2 linked regions of the Homo sapiens genome follow. The gene in region 1 interacts genetically with each later gene. Each region holds a gene or a part of one and is shown on either strand. Other genes may lie near its edges.

Region 1 (4,099 bases):
TTAATAATTTTCAAGTTTTATTTTATTGGACTAGTTTTCCTTGGGGAGATAATTCAAAAGCAGGTAATTCTGCAGTTTTTGATTATGTTTAATTAATATTAATCTCACTGGGAGTTTCTGACGTGCTAATAAAAATGCTGGCTTGGTTTATGAAAAGTGTAAACTCTAAATGTATGCCAATGACTTCAAATTTTTTCTTGTTGAAACAAACATTTTGTTGGAAACTGTGAACTACATGGCAAATTCAATTTGATAATCCTTAACAATTTAAAATTTGACTTTCTCTGTATCAAGTTTTATGTCTTTCAATGTACATATAAAAAGTGTTACTTTTTAATTCATTTAAAATATAAATTTCAAAGTATGTACCAAAAAAAAAACCCCAATGGGGGTTTTTAGTCTTTGGTTTTTTCGTTTTTGTTTTTTTTTTTTTTTTTAAGGTGCTGGTAATCTATTGTGGGATGTCCATGAAGGATTAAATAGGAAATAGTTAATGTGTCTTTTAAAAAATATTCAGGAAAACAACAGTATATAATATTCTTTATTTTTTAAGGAACATTTCCTCACGTAATAGAATTACATTAGCTTACAGTGAAACTCATTTATTTCCACAAACGAAACTTTCCTATACAACAAAGCTTGACTATCTCTCAGGAAAACATATTTAATGACTTGTGTGGAGGAGAAAAAATTATGTGTGGAAAAGTAACTCAAACCATACAAGCTGTAATACACAGAAATGCCACAGTATATCCTATTAGCATGTCACTTTATGATTCGGAAATTTGGCTGAACAGGGCCATATCAACTTCACTATTTTATCCTTCCTCTGCATCTGAAGTGAGAACAGTGCATTACACTGAAATTCCAATTGGAAACAAAGACAGCACCACTATATTTAAAAGGGCAGAAAACCTATCTTATAGAACACTTCATCGCCTCGATTTCCCAGCCTCCAAAGTTTCAAGTGTTACACTTTCAACACGTTAAAAGCACTCAAATTCCCCATCTTTCAAGGTTCATATCAAAATCATATTCACTAGTTTAAATAGGAATATGCTACCAAATCTCACAACATTGACATTTTAACAAAGAGAATTCACATTAAAAGATAACTGCTTTAAAATGAGTGCTTGTGTTTGGGAAAGCGCTATTATCTTGGTAGTCCACAGAAACTGACTGTAGTAATAAGATGAATGGTGATGAGGGCAAGGAGCATCAAGTGGGAAATGCTATCTAAAATCCCATAGGGCAATTCATAGCTAGAGGGAAGAACAACCTTTCCTAAGATGCATTATTTCCTAGAACTCCATTATTTCATGGAAGCAGTTCAAAGCATGCAAAAAAGCAAAACCATTTTAAAACACCTAGTAAACTGGGCCTCTATCTTTTTTATATTATCATAAGCCCCAGGAGTTTTTGAGAACGTACCTTCTGTCACGGCTGTCTCCCCTTCCCATCCCTTCTTCAACATAGTTGTGTTTAAAAAATATATACCTGTACTTAAAACGCAATCCTACAGCCCAGCCTAGGAGCATTTCAAAATGTCTGTGCTGCTGAGTCTGGCTGTGGTTCCTAATAAATTCACCCCATTAAGTGTGATGTTTTAGGTTGGGCAACATAAACACGCATTTCCTACTTCCATGGATGCACATTTCCTGAAAGCACTGCACCTAAGGATGCTGCCCTGTCCCCCGACGCTCAGGCACTAAACTCTAAGGAGTCACGACCTGCACTCACAGCAGAGCCACACGGTCACCCCAGTGAGAAAGATTATCTGGCCCCAAGCGCCACTCTCTCCGGCCCACTGCATCTCCGGAACTGGCAGAGGAGAGCGAGGGTGAGAAGAGACCATGGGGAGCGACTGACAACAAGGCTGACACTTCCCCGTTTCCAGAAAGCGGCACTTGGGGGACACAAGGGATGTCCCACTAGCGACCGACCTCAGAGCAGGCCCTACGAACCCGTCCACCGATGGACATGGCGCGGCCACCTGGCCCGCCGTCCGGGGCGCCCGCGGCTTTCGCTCTCCCGGCCCGCGCCCTGGAGTGCGGCTCCCGCTCCCGGCCGCCACACGCAGTCTAAACACGCGGCGCTCGCCACCTCCCTGCCCGGGGGTGGGGGCGCCGCGCAGCGCTCGCGCGGACCCACATTTTTGCGGCTCTTGTCACGCACGAGAGAAAAGGCGAGGAGGGCGGAGGGGAGGGAAGACGCGGCAGCGATCCACGGAGACGGCCGGCGCCGGTGGCGTGTGCGCGTGTGCGCGGCGGGGAGGGCGGCCCCGGCGCCCCGCCGACTCCCGCTCCCGCCCCGCGCCCGGCGCCCGCTTACCTGCCGGGGTCGCTCCGAAGACTCGCACCACCGGCACCTTCTTGACAGGGGCCTGGGTGAGGGGGGATTGGCAGGTATCCAGCCCCTGCAGCGGGCTGGCCATGTAGTAGTCTGCAGTCACTATCCTTACTGAAAACATGTTCGCCGCCGCCGCCACTGCCTCCCTTCACTGGCGACCCGGCAGCGGCAGCAGCAGCGGCGGCGGCTCCCTCCGCAGCGGCGGCGGCGCCCCCTCCCCTTCTCGGCACGGCCCCCTCCCCTCACACAGAGGCACCTCGAGGAGCGGCGGGCGGGGCGGTGTAGGCGCTGCTGCCGCCGCCTCCTCAGGAGCACCCGGCAAGGGGCCGCAGGAGAGAAGCCCTCGAGCTTTCGTCGGTGCTGGTGCTGCCGCCACTGCCGCCACCGCCGGGAATCACACGGGCTCCTCGGTCCCAGGCTGCAGCTCTTGTTGCCATGATGATGATGTCACGGACGCAACCACTGGGGGGAGGGGAGAGGGGGGTGTGTGTGGCGAAGGGAGGCTGCGAGTAGTGCGGGGGAGGGGGCTCGGCGGGAAAAGGAGCGAGAGGGCGGGCGCCCGGGCGGGACACGGAGGGCGGGGGCCGAGAAGGGGCTTTCTCCCCCTCCCCGGGCACGCGGCGAGGGAGGCGGCCGGCGGCCGGCAGCGCCCGCGCGGGATCGATGACTCGGCTGGCGGGCACGGTCACCTGGGTGAGGGGCAGCGGAAGGGGCGGCGGAGCACCGATCTCATGGATGGGCTCCGAGGGGCTTGCGGGAGGGGGGCGCCAGTGTTCGGGGCCGTTTTGGCGGCTATGCAGGATTGGCAGGAGCTGCGATGCTCACACTTGCCTCGCCGACCGCCATTTCACATCCAGCAGAGGAGGCGGGGGCAGCCGCTGAGACGGTTTTTCACAAGGTAAGAAAATCCGCCCGCGTGAGGAGGGAGGCGAGGCGCAGATCTCGTGCCGCTGCGGCCTCGCGGGAGGGAAGGGCGGGCGGGCGGCGGAACGGGCGGGGCCGGGTGCGGACGCAGCCGGCCCTTCTCAGGTAACGCCGCGGCTCCGCGCGTGGCCCGGGGGCGGTGCGAAGGGTGGGGGCGCGCGGGCGCGGGCTTCGGCCTATAAAAGGGCCGCCCTGGCGTTCCCCCTTCCCGAACGTGCCGCGCGAGCCGCGGTGCCCCCTCCTCTTTGCTGCTGCAGTGTCTGCGCCGGGCCATTTAATGAGATTTATTCACGCACGGCTCTTCTCAGCTTTGCGAGGGGTTGGCAGATCCAGTGCACAGGGATTTCCCACTACCGTGTTTTTCTCCCGCCCCCTTCCTTCCCTCTCGTCCTAATACATCCTTCGTTGGTTTCCTCGGCCCCGCAGGCTGCGTCCCGGGCACGCGCAAGTACATGTAAGGACTTGTCAGCTGCCGGTGACCTCCCTCCTCCCTCGTCGCTCCTCCCCCAGCGGAATGTAGGATTAACAGTCTTTCCGAGAAAATTTTGGCCAAAGAAAAAGGCCTGTGAAAGTCACCGCGTTAGACGTGGCCTCCTCGTGTTTTTCACTAACACGTTATGGAAGGTTTTACTACCCGAAGGCATAAAAGCACCACCGTGGGGAAGGGCCGTTTTGAATAAACAACTTTATTCAAAAATCGAGAGGGGGTGAAGCGATGCAGTTAGGGAATTTTTGTTTTAAAGAGTAGTAACATGCAGCTGGCTTGGCTATTAAATTGGAAACAAGGGGTTCCTCTCTGACTTGGCCACTGATATTGGGCGTGACC
Region 2 (3,964 bases), on another chromosome or scaffold:
AGCATGATTTTTAAAAAGAAATGAAAGTATATAATGACAAATTATAAGTGCTAAGAAGGAAATGACTAGAGGGCAGGGATACAGAGTAAAACAGACGGGTTAGAAGGAGGCCCTACGGAGAGGGAGCCTGTTGTGGGGCTGGTCCAGGCAGAGGTACCAGCACATGCAAGGTCCTGCGAGACAAATGCGGTGTGTCTGAGAATCATAACAGGGGCTGCCCTTTCAGGCTTACCCAGAAAATAGATATCCTGGGAGGAAGGTGGCATAGGGTTCACCTTCCAAGTCACTTAAAGATGAAATGCTGCATTTCTTTTCCCTGATATAGGTCCTTCACCGGGATCACGGATGAGTTAGCGAGCAGGGGATGCTGCGGAGTCGCTGTGAGTCCAGCACTGGAAATCAGACCAAGCGAAATTTGAATCCCAGCTCCGCTACTTCCCGGCTCTCAACTCCCTTGACCTCCAAGCCTCTGCTTCCTGAGGTATAAAGTGGGATTAAGGATGGCAACAACTTCGTGATTACTGTTGAGGGAGATAATGCTTGCCAAGCTCCCCAGCACACTGCCACCCACATCAGTGCGCACCTGAGTATCAGCGGTTTTAGGATTACGATGACTATTACTATCGTAAATTACTCCCAGCTTTCGGGCAGAAGGCTCATTCCAGATATTCCTGTCCCCTCTGAGGCCTCCCGACCCTGCCAGCCCAGGCAACCTCCCCCGCGCACGGCCACCGTGACCCCAGCGCGGGCGCCGCCGCCGGACCCCCGTTACCTGGGGCCAAACGCGACTTGTCGCCACCTTGCGTCCTGGGCCCTGCCTCCCTCCCGGCCGCCTCCCGACCCCGCGGCTGCTGCGGAGGCGCCCCCAGCCCAGCCGGGCCCAGGCGGTGCGGGATGCCTCGGCGGGGCTGGCGGCGGCGGCCGCGCTGCGCGCTCCGGCGGAGGGGAGGGGGCTCCGCGGCGGCGGCGGCGGCGGCGGCAGCGGCGGCAGCGGCGGCGGCGGGCCCGGCGGGGGGCAGAGCCAAGAGGCGCGGCGGCAGCAGCGGAGGAGTAGGAGGAGACGGAGGAGGATGCGGGGGGCTGCGGACGGTGGCGAGGCCCTGTCCGCAGTGAAGCCCGCGGCGCCTAGGGCGCAGGGAGTGGCCGCCTCCTCCTGCGCGCACCATTCCTGAGATGGCGGCGGCGGCACAGCGGCGGCTCGGGGAGCCCAGGAGGGGCCGGCCGGGAGCGGGCTGAGCCCCGCAGGACGGGGAGCTCGCCCAGGGCCGGCGGAGCGGCGGAGCTCGGGCCGGGCGGCCTGCGGGAGCGGCGAGGCAGGGGACGGCCCCGGGGCGGAGCGCACGGCCTGGTGAGGCCGCGATGGCGAACGCGAGCGAGCCGGGTGGCAGCGGCGGCGGCGAGGCGGCCGCCCTGGGCCTCAAGCTGGCCACGCTCAGCCTGCTGCTGTGCGTGAGCCTAGCGGGCAACGTGCTGTTCGCGCTGCTGATCGTGCGGGAGCGCAGCCTGCACCGCGCCCCGTACTACCTGCTGCTCGACCTGTGCCTGGCCGACGGGCTGCGCGCGCTCGCCTGCCTCCCGGCCGTCATGCTGGCGGCGCGGCGTGCGGCGGCCGCGGCGGGGGCGCCGCCGGGCGCGCTGGGCTGCAAGCTGCTCGCCTTCCTGGCCGCGCTCTTCTGCTTCCACGCCGCCTTCCTGCTGCTGGGCGTGGGCGTCACCCGCTACCTGGCCATCGCGCACCACCGCTTCTATGCAGAGCGCCTGGCCGGCTGGCCGTGCGCCGCCATGCTGGTGTGCGCCGCCTGGGCGCTGGCGCTGGCCGCGGCCTTCCCGCCAGTGCTGGACGGCGGTGGCGACGACGAGGACGCGCCGTGCGCCCTGGAGCAGCGGCCCGACGGCGCCCCCGGCGCGCTGGGCTTCCTGCTGCTGCTGGCCGTGGTGGTGGGCGCCACGCACCTCGTCTACCTCCGCCTGCTCTTCTTCATCCACGACCGCCGCAAGATGCGGCCCGCGCGCCTGGTGCCCGCCGTCAGCCACGACTGGACCTTCCACGGCCCGGGCGCCACCGGCCAGGCGGCCGCCAACTGGACGGCGGGCTTCGGCCGCGGGCCCACGCCGCCCGCGCTTGTGGGCATCCGGCCCGCAGGGCCGGGCCGCGGCGCGCGCCGCCTCCTCGTGCTGGAAGAATTCAAGACGGAGAAGAGGCTGTGCAAGATGTTCTACGCCGTCACGCTGCTCTTCCTGCTCCTCTGGGGGCCCTACGTCGTGGCCAGCTACCTGCGGGTCCTGGTGCGGCCCGGCGCCGTCCCCCAGGCCTACCTGACGGCCTCCGTGTGGCTGACCTTCGCGCAGGCCGGCATCAACCCCGTCGTGTGCTTCCTCTTCAACAGGGAGCTGAGGGACTGCTTCAGGGCCCAGTTCCCCTGCTGCCAGAGCCCCCGGACCACCCAGGCGACCCATCCCTGCGACCTGAAAGGCATTGGTTTATGAGGGAGGCCCCGCCACATAGACCCCCAACCCAGCCTTTCCCTTTGGCTCGGACGGTGACGTTGTATCTTTTCCTTCTGGCCCCTGTTTAATTTTCTAAGCTGCCTTCAAAATGACTCGAAGTGGACAGACACTTGGATTGTACTGACTCCTTTGGGGGTGGGGTGGGTGAGGAGTAGGATGCTCAGCCCACTCCAGCTCCGCACATTCGTCCTCCTAACTCGACTTTCTTCCTGACAATAGGCCCTGCAGTCTTTTTGTAGCGGTACTGACGTCTTTTATTCCATGTGTGGTTCCTTTTTTTCTTTTTCTATAAAGGCTGTACTAATTTTCTTCATGCAACGTTTCCTAAAGACCATGGCCAGTTTTCTACAGAAGCTATTTTTGACAACCTCAAGTGGCATTACATTTTGCAGTGAAGTAGAGGAACCTAGGGGGACTTCTTCACAAGTTAGATTTCTTGAGGATCTTCTGTTGGAAGCAGGAGAAAGTGGGGGGTGGGGGGAAGTTGTCCGAAATGCCCTCTGAATTGCCGGCTGCAGGGTCCTTGTGCTGCGCTGGTTCTTTGAAAGTCTCAGTGTTGATATTGAACTTAAAGAGCAGAGATGGAGATCAGTAGCAAGGCAGTCATTTTTTTAAAGCAGTAAGTAACAAGTAAGATTTGGTTCCCGGTTTACTTTCTGCTGCTAAAAACCACGTCAGTGACAACTGCTCTCTGTATTATAGCAATCTTGAATGGAAACATTTCTGTCAAGTTGTAAGTTTTAAAAGAGTAAAGTGTTTTGGTTAGTAATGATGTGGAGAAAAATACAGTATTGCATGTGTTCGTGTGTATAGATTGTGGTTCGAGGATTGGGAGGGCTCTGAGAAGCAGAGTACTACATCAAAATTGTTTTAAGTATTTTTTGCCAATAAAAAATTAATTTTATGGAAATGGCTTGTGCTTTGAGAAGCCCAGTTTTATTCTGTCTTATGAAACTAATTTCCACTTTGAAAATTGTTCTTCTGTTGTTTATGGTATAAATGAATGGAATATAATGATATCCTCCTTCTAGGAAACAAAGCATTTCCTTAAAATGTTTGCTAGGTTAAGCTGTGCTGTTCTACTGATGGTTGTTTTAAATTAATAATGAGAACTATAATTTAAATAATATTTCTTTGTTAGACATTATAATGTTAAACTGAAAGACTAAATTCTGCAAGTACTATATAATATTTTTGGCTTATAATGCTACATTTTTATTAATGTACCTTCCGTTTTGAGGATTTATATCTGTATTTCTCTTTGCATTATACAAATATACCAGTATTTTCATTCTGGAGTGGTTGTTTTGTTGTGGTGGTGGTGGTGTTTGAGGCTGTAATAATACATGCGTCGAAGTATGTTACATGCCTCTAAGTATGTTATGTAAGGATAACATGCTCTATGATCCTTTTAGCACGTGTTCTTCAGTTACAGGTTTCATAGTTTGACCATCAG

Evidence for each region. Genes that interact genetically often act in the same process or in processes that back each other up.
Region 2: changes in REV3L (region 1) and GPR27 impair growth when combined (synthetic growth defect), as found in Homo sapiens cells (one large-scale study listed by BioGRID).

Annotation. Positions count from the first base shown.
Region 1 is NC_000006.12:111,480,419-111,484,517, forward strand, and holds the start of REV3L (DNA polymerase zeta catalytic subunit), read right to left. Parts: upstream 2,801-4,099; 5' UTR 2,471-2,800; coding exon 2,332-2,470; intron 2,194-2,331; exon of another isoform or gene 1-2,193. UniProt on the Homo sapiens protein: Catalytic subunit of the DNA polymerase zeta complex, an error-prone polymerase specialized in translesion DNA synthesis (TLS). Lacks an intrinsic 3'-5' exonuclease activity and thus has no proofreading function.
Region 2 is NC_000003.12:71,752,691-71,756,654, forward strand, and holds GPR27 (probable G-protein coupled receptor 27), read left to right. Parts: upstream 1-1,164; 5' UTR 1,165-1,359; coding exon 1,360-2,487; 3' UTR 2,488-3,806; downstream 3,807-3,964. UniProt on the Homo sapiens protein: Orphan receptor. Possible candidate for amine-like G-protein coupled receptor.